2 linked regions of the Homo sapiens genome follow. The protein of the gene in region 2 interacts with the protein of the main gene of each other region in a pairwise test. Each region holds a gene or a part of one and is shown on either strand. Other genes may lie near its edges.

What was found. Proteins that work in one complex are often made in the same cells at the same time.
Region 1: the proteins of PPP1R16B (region 2) and PLEKHN1 interact in binary tests that used the Homo sapiens proteins (3 or more experiments, as listed by UniProt).

What each region holds. Positions count from the first base shown.
Region 1 is NC_000001.11:962,635-969,500, forward strand, and holds the start of PLEKHN1 (pleckstrin homology domain-containing family N member 1), read left to right. Parts: upstream 1-3,847; 5' UTR 3,848-3,897; coding exon 3,898-3,980; intron 3,981-4,069; coding exon 4,070-4,169; intron 4,170-6,866. Other genes in the region: KLHL17 (kelch-like protein 17), read left to right, coding at 70-283, 475-619, 703-870, 1,286-1,374, 1,473-1,546, 1,715-1,896, 2,329-2,557. UniProt on the Homo sapiens protein: Controls the stability of the leptin mRNA harboring an AU-rich element (ARE) in its 3' UTR, in cooperation with the RNA stabilizer ELAVL1.
Region 2 is NC_000020.11:38,906,694-38,913,712, forward strand, and holds part of PPP1R16B (protein phosphatase 1 regulatory inhibitor subunit 16B isoform 1 precursor), read left to right. Parts: intron 1-285; coding exon 286-361; intron 362-1,112; coding exon 1,113-1,242; intron 1,243-1,334; coding exon 1,335-1,500; intron 1,501-7,019. UniProt on the Homo sapiens protein: Regulator of protein phosphatase 1 (PP1) that acts as a positive regulator of pulmonary endothelial cell (EC) barrier function. Involved in the regulation of the PI3K/AKT signaling pathway, angiogenesis and endothelial cell proliferation.

The sequences.
Region 1 (6,866 bases), on a different chromosome or scaffold from region 2:
GGTTGTCTCAGCCCTGACGCCCAGTGTGCCCGAGGGTCCCGCCTGACCTTGGCGTTCCCTGCACCCCAGCTCATGAAGTGTGTGCGGCTGCCCTTGCTGAGCCGCGACTTCCTGCTGGGCCACGTGGATGCCGAGAGCCTGGTGAGGCACCACCCTGACTGCAAGGACCTCCTCATCGAGGCCCTGAAGTTCCACCTGCTGCCTGAGCAGAGGGGCGTCCTAGGCACCAGCCGCACACGTCCCCGGCGCTGCGAGGGGGCCGGGCCTGTGCTTTTTGCTGTGGGTATGGCCCCCCGCCCGTTTCCCTCTTGCCCTGTGCCTTCTACTCCCCACCAGCACAAGCCCACCCCACCTGTGCCGGTCAGGTCCTGACCTGCCCCTCCGCCCCTCCATTCAGGGGCCTCTCCAGGAGCCTGGGGTGTGGCCCAGCAGTGGGATCCACTCACGAGTCCCGTCTCCACCTGCCCTCCCCAGGCGGCGGGAGCCTGTTTGCCATCCACGGAGACTGTGAGGCCTACGACACGCGCACCGACCGCTGGCACGTGGTGGCCTCCATGTCCACGCGCCGGGCCCGGGTGGGAGTGGCTGCGGTGGGGAACCGGCTCTATGCTGTGGGCGGGTAAGCCTGGAGGCTGGACTTGGGTCGGGTCTGGCACGTGCCCGCCAGGCCAGTCTTGACCTGCAGTGGCTTAATTCCGCTAGCTATGATGGGACCTCAGACCTGGCTACCGTGGAGTCCTACGACCCCGTGACTAACACGTGGCAGCCGGAGGTGTCCATGGGCACAAGGCGAAGCTGCCTGGGTGTGGCCGCCTTGCATGGACTCCTGTACTCGGCCGGCGGCTATGACGGGGCCTCCTGCCTGAACAGGTAGTTGGGGTTGGGGCCCCAGTGGCTTTGTACAGTCCATCTGCAAGAGGCAAGTTTGTGTCACCATCACAGGGGTCGTATCTGATGGGGTGTTAAAGGAGGTGATCCGCGAGGCCGTTTCACCCCAGGCCACTGCCACACTGGGCCTGAACTCTTGGCTTTGCTGCCCCAGTGCCCTTTCCTCTCTCGGGTCCTTACCCCCAGTCCAGAGGCTGGGCCCAGGTGGGTGTGCACCCAGGGTTGTTCAGGCAGCCAGGGTCCTGTGCCCACCAGCGGGCCCTGCCTGGTAGGACTTTGCGGTCTGAGTTTGACTCCTAGGGTAAGATTTCAGCCATTCCGCTGGGGAGGGCAGGTCCTGGGGCCGGGACGCCTTTCTGTCTCTGCTGAGCTGTGGCTGCGGTCCTGGTGCCCACAGTGCTGAACGCTACGACCCCCTGACCGGAACGTGGACGTCCGTCGCTGCCATGAGCACCCGGAGGCGCTATGTGCGAGTGGCCACGCTTGGTGGGTGATGGGGCCTGCCTGGGGGGCATCCCCACCTTCCCCCACCGTGGAGACCCCACTCCCAGCAGGAGTGCCACGGGTGTGTTGACTTCCGGCAGATGGGAACCTGTATGCTGTGGGCGGCTACGACAGCTCCTCACACCTGGCCACTGTGGAGAAGTATGAGCCCCAGGTGCATAGTGCACCCCTCCTGGCCACCCCCTCCCGTGCGCCGCGGGGCCCTCCTCCCTCTGTTTACCCACATCCCCCCCATTCCTGACACCCCACCCTGGAGTCGGGGCTGCGGCAGAGGAGGGATGCCAGTGGCGGGTCTGCGTCCAGCCCACGCCCTCGCCCCCAGGTGAACGTGTGGTCGCCCGTGGCGTCCATGCTGAGCCGACGCAGCTCAGCGGGCGTGGCCGTGCTGGAGGGTGCCCTGTACGTGGCAGGGGGCAACGACGGCACCAGCTGCCTCAACTCGGTAGAGAGATACAGTCCAAAGGCTGGAGCCTGGGAAAGCGTGGCGCCCATGAATATCCGCAGGTCCGCAGTGGGGCTGCGGGGAGGGGGGCGCGGGTCCGCAGTGGGGCTGTGGGAGGGGTCCGCGCGTCCGCAGTGGGGATGTGCTGCGGGGAGGGGGGCGCGGGTCCGCAGTGGGGATGTGCTGCCGGGAGGGGGGCGCGGGTCCGCAGTGGGGATGTGCTGCCGGGAGGGGGGCGCGGGTCCGCAGTGGGGATGTGCTGCCGGGAGGGGGGCGCGGGTCCGCAGTGGGGATGTGCTGCCGGGAGGGGGGCGCGGGTCCGCAGTGGGGATGTGCTGCCGGGAGGGGGGCGCGGGTCCGCAGTGGGGATGTGCTGTGAGAAGGGAGTTCTCCCAACCTCAGCGAGCATGTCCCGCCACCACCCCTTTTTGTGGTGCAGCCCCTCCCCCCGCATCCCTTCCTGCAGCCAGGGGCTCACCCCGCCTTCCCCCCAGGAGCACGCATGACCTGGTGGCCATGGACGGATGGTTGTACGCCGTGGGGGGTAACGACGGTAGCTCCAGCCTCAACTCCATCGAGAAGTACAACCCGAGGACCAACAAGTGGGTGGCCGCATCCTGCATGTTCACCCGGCGCAGCAGTGTGGGTGTGGCGGTGCTGGAGCTGCTCAATTTCCCGCCGCCATCCTCCCCGACGCTGTCCGTGTCCTCCACCAGCCTCTGACCCACCTACCACCAGAGGCCTGCAGCCTCCCACATGCCTTAAGGGGACCGTGGCCCCCACCAGGGACGTCCTGCGCCATCCGTTCACGTCTCTGCATCCATTCCTTCATGTCTTTATTTAGTTGTTTATTTATTTAGTTATTTATCTTATTTATTGAGGGGTGAGGAGTGCCACGGCTGCCCGTTTACACCTTTAGCGTCTGGTCCTCCTGCGTGTCCTCCCCTCCACTGCCTGCATGGGGGGCGCGGGGAGTGACCAGGCGGGGGCCTCACCGCCCCAGGGCCGTTGCCTGCTCAGACCTTGCAGGCTGTGGAGCAAGAGGCCCTGGGTCTCTCCAAGCAGCTGCAGACCCCAGCTCGAATTTTGCACATGGCGGGGTCCCGGGAAGGGTGGGGAGCAGTTGTCCTTCCTGTCGTCGTCTGCCGTGTGCCATCTTTCCTGGATCTTGTAGTGGGTGCACACGCGTGCACTGGGACCCCACACAGCAATACGAGTCCAACTTAATAAACACATTTCTGGGGTTCCTCAGGCTGAGCATCTCTCTCTGGCATGTGGGGCAGCTGCGCAACTTTGGGTCCTGTCTGGGGTCCAGGGTGAGGGGTGTGGGGGGGTGCCCTGAGATGCGCAGGCATCTGGGAGCTGCAAGGCAGAGCTGTGCGTCCAGGGAGGGTGGGGGCCGTGCAGTTCCTGTGGACCAGCGTCCCAGTGTGGGTGGCGTTTGCCTGGGCTGGGTACTGAGGCCGAGGTCCCCGCCACATCGTGGGCTCTGGGGTTAGGGCTGGGGAGGACAGCCTTGCCCCCGAGTGCGCTGACTGTCTTGGCCGTCTAGGGGGCATGTGGCCTCCCTGAGTCCCCTTAAGCCTTGGGGACCCTGACTCGGGTCTGTGGCGAGGGGGCCCAGGCAGGAGGGGAGGCTGCGGTGGCTTTGGCCGCCGTCTCCTGTGCTGGAACTCCTGCCTCAGCCCTCCCTGCAGTCACCGGTGACTCGGGCCGGCCAGAGTTTAGATGGAAACAGGATGTGTGGGCACGTTGTCCCGGGGGGCCTGGAAGGTCGCCCCGGGTTCACCAAGCCGGAGCACAAGCAGGTGGGGTACCTCTGCACACTGGAGGCCTCGTCTGGGCCAGAGGGGTGCTTGCCCCAAGGCTGGCCTCTCGAGTGGAGGGCCCAGGGCAGAGACCTGCACGGCTCAGGTAGGGGCCAGGCCTCTTCCAGAAAGGCTCCACCCTCGCCCAGGCCCTGGTGCCGGGCGGGACGTCCCGGAGCCCCGCCTGCCCGCGGGAGGCGGGGGCAGGAGGCTGTGGACAGGGACCCAGACTTGCCGACCTGTACGACTCTGGCCATGGGGAACAGCCACTGTGTCCCTCAGGCCCCCAGGAGGCTCCGGGCCTCCTTCTCCAGAAAGCCCTCGCTGAAGGGAAACAGGTGAGCGGGGCGTGGGTGCGGCCACCTGGGCGCAGGGCTCCCCCACCCGCTCCGGGGCCAAGCCACGAGACCCCTTGCCTTGTCCCCAGAGAGGACAGCGCGCGGATGTCGGCCGGCCTGCCGGGCCCCGAGGCTGCTCGAAGCGGGGACGCCGCCGCCAACAAGCTCTTCCACTACATCCCGGGCACGGTGAGCGCGGCGTGCACGGTGGCTGTGGTCTGGGAGCGTGGCTCTGCCCGCGCGTGTGTGCCGTGTGTCCGTGCAGCTCAGGGTCTTCCCCTCGCCCCCGGGGCGTTCAGACCCCGGTAGGTGAGGAGCCGACGCTGACTGCCCCGCCCTGGGGAGCTCATCCGGCCGAAAGTCTGAGCGGAGAGCGAAACCGCGACGCAGGACTGAGTCAGTCGGGAGAGAGCTGGGCGGGGCGGGCCGCGGGCGGGGCCTCCCGGGACCTCCTCCCGCAGGGGACCAGCGCACGTGTCTCTGTCGCTGCAGTGGGGCTTGGGGTCGTGCCGGCAGGTAGTGTCACTTGAGAGTAAGGGGCCTCAGATGAGCAGCGAGCCAGCCGGTCACCTACACCGGCCTTTCTCCCTGGGTGTCCCGCAGGAAGTTGCCGCTGGGTATGGCCGCCTGGTCCACAGCAATCCCTCTGTGCACGCGCCGGCCTCCTCCCAGCTTGCCAAGGCCATGCAGCAAGGAGGTGTCTCCCAAGCACACACTAGGCCACCTCTCCGTCAAAGGAGCAGAAGACCACCCCCATGCCCACCCCCCCCCCAGCCCCTGTGGGACTAAGGGTCTTCACAGGGTAGATCCCAGCCCCTTTCAGATGTGTCTGGTGCTGGGATGAGGGAACAGGACCAGGAACCTGGGCTTCAGGGCAGACAGGAACCCCCACTGCACCCCCGTCAGGCAGCCTGGATGGGTGGGCTCCGCTATGTGCAGGCCCTAGGAGCATCTGCGGGAGAGGACGCCTGCCCTGCACTCCTGGGTCCAGCAGCTGGCATGGCCGTGCAGACCCCTTTGCCAACATGCCCCCGCCAGGCAGGAAGCTCGTGCCATACCCTCTCCTGACCTCCAGAGTTTCAGGGCTCCCTGCAGACAAGTACTGGTTTCGGAAACCACGCTGCCTCAGAGGAGTGGGCAGGGAGAGGGAGCCGGGCTGGGTTAGGGGTGGGGTCCCTGTGGCTGCATCTCAGACACCACTCCCTCTGTCCAGGCCCAGGACATGCAGTGTGACCCTGGGGGGTCCTATGAGGTGTGGTGGGTGGCCGTAGTGGTCCTCCCTTGCCAGGACATGGTAGCCACAGAGGCAACAACCTGCTGAACCTCGGGAAATGGGGCTGGGGGAGGAGCTCTGGGCCAGTCCTAGAGCCAGTGCTCCGCGGCCCTGTACCTGGGCTCTGCACCCAGTGCTGTGAGCTGGCTCTACTACGGCTCCAAGCTGAGTCCTCCCCGGGGCCCCGAGGCTGAGCTGCGCTGCAGGGCCAGCTGTGTGGCCCTTCCTGGTCTGTGGCCTATTTTTCATGGGTGCCAACCCGGCATCAGTTCCCACGCTGGGTGTGGGTACAGGAGGCCCCACCCAGAGGCAGAAGGCCGGGAAAGCCATGCGTCTGTCTGTTCACATTCCTGGGCCTGCTCAGGGGCAGCTAAGCTTGGCCAGGGCACAGCAGCTCTGCAGGTAGCTCTCGCCAGCTCCTAGAAGGAGGAGGACACCTTCCCACTTGGCCCTGAGCCTGTGGATCACAGAGGTCTCCAGCCCCAGGTTCACACCCGTCCCTTTTCTGACTTCCAACCTGGTGATCAAAGCCTGCATTTGTAGAGGACTGTGTGTGCCAGGATTGACTACATGTGGCGTGGATGTGGAGTCCCCTCCCCTCTCAGCACATGCAGTGATACCCACAGCACATCCCAGGCCCTGTCTTAGGCTCTGGGGACACAGCAGTGAACGGAATAGACAACCCCTGTTCTGCTAGTGCTCCCATTCCCACGGCAGAGACACACGACGGGACAAATCAATAGATCCAGTGAGCGGGGTCAGGTCGGTGCTAAGGAGAAAAACAGAGGGGATGAGTGCAGAGGATCAGGGAAGGCTGGAATTTTAGAAAGGCTTTCAGAAAAGGAATTCTTGGAGCAGGTAATGTCTGAGCAAAGCTGCAAAGCGGGTAAGGAGGGGGGTCAGGACTGAGCGGTCCCCAAAGCAGGAACAGAACATGCAGCAGCCAGAGAGCATGGGTCTGATGTGAGGAGACAGTGAGGCCGGGGCAGCCACAGAGACCCCTCGGGGGAGACCCCTCGGGGCACTGCCAGGACCCCGTTGTCCCCTGAGTGAGGCATACGGAGCGGCCAACACACAGAGGATCGACCCCAGAAATCTCCTCACATATTTCAGGCTGGGGGCTGGAAATGGGCAACGGTGAGGACACTGACACCGAGGAGATTGGCAAACGTTACAAATCAGGGCATCGGTGTGTTTCTGTGTCTGTTTTTTGTAGAACCAGGTGTTAAGCATTTACCATACAATACTGCAGACGTGGGAGGGTTTTGAGTGTTACCCAGACACCCCCAAATTCTTCTAACAAGTCTTCAGAGGTTGAATAACCCAAGCCATGTTACACAGCTTAGGAAAGAATGAAGATGGGTTTAATCCACTGAGTCCAGATCTCACCATCTCTACCACTAGACCAGGCAGCTCTGTGTGGGGAAGTGTGTCTGTGTGTGCGTGTGTGTGCACAAGTGTGTATGTGTGCATGTGTTTGCACGTGTATATGTGTGCACACATCTGTGTGTATATGCACAGGTGTATGTATACGTGTGTGTTGGTGTATTTGTGTGTGTGTGGAAATGTATGCATGTATGCAGTGTGCATGTGTGCATGCATGTGTGTGCATG
Region 2 (7,019 bases):
GTCACTTACACCTAGTCCCTCCTTAGATACCTGCCAGCTCTAGAGTTACAGCCAACTCTTTCTTCTCCTTCTTCTTGGTGTGGCCCAGGCATGTGGAGGAGGTGCTAAGCTCATTGCATCTGTCTGGATTCCCCCCATGGCTCTAGTTTGCAGGCCTTCCCTGGAAATCAACTTTGTCCCACCATTCTTTGGGTCACATCCTAAGAGGCCTTGGGCACTCTCTCCACCTCCTAGGCTTTCTGAGCTCTGGGCAGGGGGACACATGAGCTTCTTCCTGTGTTTCAGATGCAGATGGCAGAGCTATTGGTGTCCCATGGAGCTAGTCTCAGTGCAAGGACATCCATGGATGAGATGCCAATAGGTAAGTCCAGCACAATAGCTGGTGTGCACAAATAGGCAGTTATCAATGTTTTGATGGGTAGAGGGAGAAATAGATAAATATATGGTTGTATAGATTGATGGATTGGTGTCTAGATAGATAGATGGATTAATTAATGGATGGTAGATGAATGGACGGATGGACAGATTAATGGATAGATGGATAAATGGATGAATGGATGGTTGAGGTGGTAGATGGGTAGATATTATGAGGTCTGGTTGAATGGATGGGTGGGTGGGTGGATGGATGGATGGATGGATGGATGGATGGATGGATAGACAGAAAAATAAGTGGATGAGTGGGTAAAGGATGAATCTATGAATACATGGCTCAGTCAGCAATAGGTAGATAGATGGATGAAGGGGTTAGGTAGAATAGATGGGAGTATGTAGCTTTATTAGCATCTTTGCATAATTTATTGCTTGGGCTATGTGGGGTACCTGCTTGGGGACTCTTCTTGGAAACTATCAAAGAGCAACATGAATCCCTCGGTCATAGCTGGGAAGCTTAGGAATTGTGACTGTGCCCAGAACCTGGGTTTCCCATTCTTATAATCCTCTTATAAACACACTCACTCAACTTTGGCTGGCATTGTTTTCTTGCCTCCCTGCATGCCCTGAAAGATGCTTGGAGTTTTCAGTGGGTTGGGGTGGCAGCTCCTCTGGTCTGGAGCACCCTCTTGCGCCACAGGTCCTGGCCCCGTCCCCCACAACAGACTCCTCTGCCCCTTCAGACCTGTGCGAGGAGGAAGAGTTCAAGGTCCTGCTGCTGGAGCTAAAACACAAGCATGATGTGATCATGAAGTCACAGCTGAGGCACAAGTCATCCTTGAGCCGGAGGACCTCCAGCGCAGGCAGCCGTGGGTGAGTCCGGGGCAGGGCAGCCAGGAGTCCCTGTGTGTGCTCCTGCCTGTGGTGCCTGGGTGCAGCCTCTAGGACCCACTTTGTCCTCTCAGGAAGGTGGTGCGGCGAGCCAGCCTGTCGGACAGGACCAACCTGTATAGGAAGGAGTATGAGGGAGAGGCCATCCTGTGGCAGCGGAGTGCAGCTGAGGATCAGCGGACCTCCACCTACAACGGGGACATCAGGGAGACCAGGACAGACCAAGAGAATAAGGACCCTGTGAGTGGCCTCACGCCCTGCCCTAGTGTCAGCCACTGCAATGGGAGGAGAACAGGGCCCAGCCTGGCCTTGCCTCTTCAACTGAGAGCCTTCAGAGGGAAGTAGCCAGGCACTGCCCTTAAACTAGCATATCCAGTCTGATGATGATGGCTACTGTAGTTAAACCAGCAGATTCAGTCTGATGGTGGTGGCTGCTGTAGTTAAGGAGGTGATCGGGGAGTGTGTTAGAGGCTGAGCTGGGTGCTTTGGCACACAGGTAGGTCTCCTAATTGACAGGGGGTGAGTGTCCGCTATGCGCCTAGCTGTGCTCCAGCACACCTAGCAGTGGACTTCCAAGGAGAGAGCTTCAGTAGGGCAGTCACCCAGGAGCTGAGGGTGCTACAACTTCTTTTTCAGGAAATATAACAAGATATTGAGAATTGTGTTTATCAGAACATGTTTTTTGAAAAATGGAGTAGGATCCTAGTAGGACCTCTGAGAAGCCTGCTCCTGTAGCAGCCAATGGTCCTTTAAGCTTTAAGCTGCTTTCATTTCTGATGGCTGCTTTAAGAAATTATCACAAACTGGATGGCTTAACATGGTGGAAATTTATTCTCTCTCAGTTCTGAAGGCCAGAAGTCTAAAATCCAGGTAACACCAGCATTGGTTCCCTCTGGGGGCTCTCAAGGGGATTCTGTTCCACGCCTCTGCGAGCTTCTGGTGGCTCAGGCGTTCTTTGGCTCTTGCTAGCAATGATTCTAGTCTCTGCTTCTATCTCCACATGACCTTTTTCTTCGTGTGTGTGTGTCTGTTTTCTTTTTTTATTTTTATTTTATTGGTTTTTTTTGAGACAGGGTCTTGCTCTGTCACTCAGGCTGGAGTGCAGTGGCATGATTATAGATCACTGAAGACTCCAACTCATGGGCTTAAGCGATCCTCCCACCTCAGCCTCCCAAGTAGCTGGGACTATAGGCGGGGGCCATCACGACTGGCTAATTTTCAAATTTCTTGTAGAGATGAGGTCTTGCTGTGTTGCCCAGGCTGGCCTCAAACTTAGCCTCAAGCAATCCTCCCACCTTGGCTTCCCAAAGTACTGAGATTACAGGTTCGAGCCACTGTACCTAGCCTGTTTTTTCCTCTTATGAGGACACCAGTCATTGGATTGGAGCCCATGCCAATCCAGTATGACCTAATCTTAATTTAATTTATTACACCTGCAAATACCTATTTCTAGATAAAGTCACATTCAGAGATTCCAGGTAGACATGAATTTTTGAGGGACACTACTTAACCCAGAACCAACACACTCACTCAGCATGGCTGCTTTCTTGCTGAGTGGAGTGAACAAGTTTGGGGCTGGAGTGGAATTGCTGAGGATGAGGGAGAAGTTAACTGTACCAGAAGTGGTCTGCCATTTTCGTTCTTCCACTACACCACGAACAGATGAAAACATGCCTAGAGAGTTTAGCCTTGGTGGGATGAAATTGATTAGCTACCGAGCATGCCCACGTGTCTCAGAGGGACCCTGCTTCCCAGCACGAACAGTGGGGTCACCTACTGCCTGTCTCACCAGGAGGTGTGAAGGTGCCTGCCCAAGGGGAGGCCACATCAAAGCCACCAGCTGGTGATGGAGAGGGCACGTAGGGAAGATTTGTTCTGCCTGGCCCCTTAGTCTGAGGATTGGTGAGAAAAGAGATGTAGATCAGTATCAAATCACATTTCAGATGTCTCCCAGCTGTGCTTTATTTATTTTTCCTTTGTGATTGTGGTGTAACTTAAGTATGGTAAAGCAGACAAATCTTTTTTTATTTTTTTATTTTTTTATGATATGGAGCCTCGCTCTGTTACCCAGGCTGGAGTGCAGTGGTGTGATTTCAGCTCACTGCAACCTGTGCTCCCGGGTTCAAGCGATTCTCTTGCCTCAGCCTCCTGAGTAGTTGGGATTACTAGTGCCCGCCACGACGCCTGGTGGATTTTTGTATTTTTAGTAGAGATGGGGTTTCACCATGTTGGCCAGGCTGGTGTTGAAGTTCTGACCTCAAGCAATCCTTACCCACTTGGACCTCCCAAAGTGCTGGGCTTACAGGTGTGAGCCACCATGCCTGGCCAAGTAGACAAATCTTAAATGAGATTTTCAACAACCTTTTACAAATGTACACACTCAGATGAATTCATAGAGCATTTTCATCATCCATGTTCTCTCTCCGTCCTTTCCCCCACTCCAAATGTAGTCACTATTTAACTTTGAGTTCTAAAGATTAATTTTGTATATGCATATGAATGACCCTGCAGTTTCTTTCGTGTCTGGCTTTTTTTACATCTGTGAGAGTCACCCACGTTGTGGCATATAGCAGTAGTTTTTTTTTGTTTTTTTTTTTTGAGACAGGAGTTCACTCTGTTGCCTGGGCTGGAGTGCAGTGGTGTGATCCTAGCTCACTGCAGCCTTGACCTCTTGGGATCAAGCGATCCTCCCACCTCAGCCTCTTGGGTAGCTGGGACTATAGGCATGCACCACCATGCCTGGCTAATTAAAAAAAATTTTTGGCTGGGTGCCGTGGCTCATGCCTGTAATCCCAGCACTTTGGGAGGCCGAGGTGGGTGGATCACAAGGTCAAGAGATCGAGACCATCCTAGCCACATGGTGAAACCCCATCTCTACTAAAAATACAAAAATTAGCTGGGCATGGTGGCACGCGTCTGTAGTCCCAGCTACTCAGGAGGCTGAGGCAGGAAAATCACTTGAACCCGGGAGGTGGAGGTTGCAGTAAGCCAAGATCGAGCCACTGCACTCCAGCCTGGGGACAGAGCGAGACTCCGTCTCAAAACAAAACAAAACAAAACAAAACAAAATTTTTTAGAGATGGAATCTTGCTATGTTGCCCAGGCTGGTCTCAAACTCCTGGGCTCAAATGATCCTCTTGCCTCAGTCTCCCAAAGTGCTGGGATTATAGGCACGAGCCACTGTACCTGGCCTCATTCTTGTTTTTTTTTTCTTTTTCTTTTTTTTTTTTTGAGATGGAGTCTTGCTCTGTCCCCCAGGCTGGAGTGCATTGGCGCGATCTCGGCTCACTGCAACCTCCATCTCCCGGGTTCATGCCGTTCTCCTGCCTCAGCCTCCCTAGTAGCTGGGACTATAGGTGCCCACCATCACGCCCAGCTAATTTTTTGTATTTTCAGTAGAGACGGGGTTTCACCGTGTTAGCCAGGATGGTCTCGATCTCCTGACCTCGTGATCCACCCGCCTCAGTCTCCCAAAGTGCTGGGATTACAGGCGTGAGCCACCACGCCTGGCCGCCTCATTCTTTTTTATTGCTTTCTAGAATTCGATTGTTTGAATATTAAAATTTACATATCCATGCTCCTTTTTTTTTTTTTTTAAATTGAGACAGAGTCTCGCTTTGTCACCCAAGCTAGAGTGCAGTGGCGTGCTCTTGGCTCACTACAACCTCTGCCTCCCAGGATCAAGCGATTCTCCTGCCTCAGCCTCCTGAGTAGCTGGGATTACAGGTGCGTGCCACCACGCCCGGCTAATTTTTCTATTTTTAGTAGAGATGGGGTTTCGCCATATTGGCCAGGCTGGTCTTGAATTCCTGACCTCAAACGATCCACCCTCCTCGGCCTCCCAAAGTGTTGGTATTACAGGGGTCAGCCACTGCTCCTGGCCTCCATTCTCCTTTTGGTGGACATTTGGGTTTCTTGTTTCTGGCTCCTGTGAATAAAGCTCCTATAAACATTTTTGTACATGTCTTTTGGTGGACATAAGCACTATTTTGTGTTGGGAAAACACCCAGGAAAGCAGCTGGAGTCACGGGTAGGCATATGTTTAGCTTTAGTGGATACTACCAAGCAGTTTTCCAAGGTGCCTTGTACCTGTCTGCTTTCCCATGGCAGAGTGTTTCTTGCCAACCCTTGGTATAGTCAGTCTTTTTTTTTTTTTTTTTTTTGATACAGAGTTCCGCTCTTGTTGCCTAGCCTGGAGTGCAATGGCGCCATCTCGGCTCACTGCAATCTCCGCCTCCCGGGTTCAAGTGATTCTCCTGTCTCAGCCTCCTGAGTAGCTGAGATTACAGGCACCTGCCACCATGCCCAGCTAATTTTTGTGTTTTAGTAGAGATGGGGTTTCACCATGTTAAGGTGGGAATTCTCAAAGCATGGTCCCTGTACCAGCAACATCAGCATCACCTGGGAACTTGTTAGAAATGCAGACTTTGGCTGGGCACAGTGGATCACAAATCCTGTAATCCCAAAACTGAGGGAGGCTGAGGTGGGAGGATCTTCTGAGCCTAGGAGTTACTGGACAACATGGCAAGACCGTATCTCTACCCCCCACCAAAAAAAAAAAAAAAAAAAACAATTAGGTGGGTGTGATGGTGTGTACCTGTAGTCTTAGGTCTTGTGAGGCTGAGGCAGGAGGATTGCTTGAGTCGAGGAATTCAATGCTGCAGTGAGCTATGATAGCACCACTGAACTCCAGCCTGGGTGACAGAGTGAGGCGTGGTCTCTAAAAAAAAAATAAAAATAAATAAATGTAGATTCTCAGGACCCACTCCAGATGTGGCGATACTGCTGCACACAAGAATTTCAGAACCACTTATTTGAGGAATAATTTGTTCAGCCTGACCCCCAAATCACATTTCTTCCAAGGCTGTGCCCTGTTAGCCTTCAGGGATGACTTTGGTTCACTGTTTTTTGTTTTTGTTTTTTTCCTCTGAGACAAGGTCTCACTCTGTTGCCCAGGCTAGACTGGAGTGCAGTGGCGCAAACTTCGTTCACTATAGCCTCTGCCTCCCAGATTCAAGCAATTCTCCCACCTCAGCCTCCTGATTAGCTGGGACTACAGGCACCCGCCACCATGCCCAGCTAATTTTTGTGTTTTTTGGTAGAGATGGGGTTTCCCCATGTTGGCCAGGCTGGTCTCGAACTCCTGACCTTAAGTGATCCACCTGCCTTCGCTTCCCAGAGTGCTGGGATTACAGACATGAGCCACTGTGCCCCTTGTTTTTTAATCTGATGTTTAAGTAGCAGTACAGACAAACTAAATCAGAATCTCAGGAGTTGGGACCTCAGCATTGTATATGTTTGTCATTGGTGTTTTTTTTTAATTTTTTTTAGATGGAATCTTGCTCTGTTGCCAGGCTGGAGTGCAGTGGCTCAATCTTGGCTCACTGCAACCTCCGCCTCCCAGGTTCAAGTGATTTTCCTGCCTTAGCCTCCTGAGTAGCTGGAACTACAGGCGCACGCCACCATGCCCAGCTAATTTTTGTATTTTTAGTAGAGACGGGGTTTCACCATGCTGGCCAGGATGGTCTCAATCCCTTGACCTTGTGATCCACCCGCCTCGACCTCCCAAAGTGCTGGGATTACGGGCGTGAGCCACCATGCCTGGCCATGTCGTTGTTTTTTAAAGCTAAAGAGAGACTGTTTTTGAAGTGATTGCAGCAGTAAGTAGAATGCATCGACCACAGAATTGGCAAGATCTTGGAGGTCAAGGAGAAAGGAGTTCGTTTCCTAGGGAGGAAGACAGAGGCTGCAAGGACTGA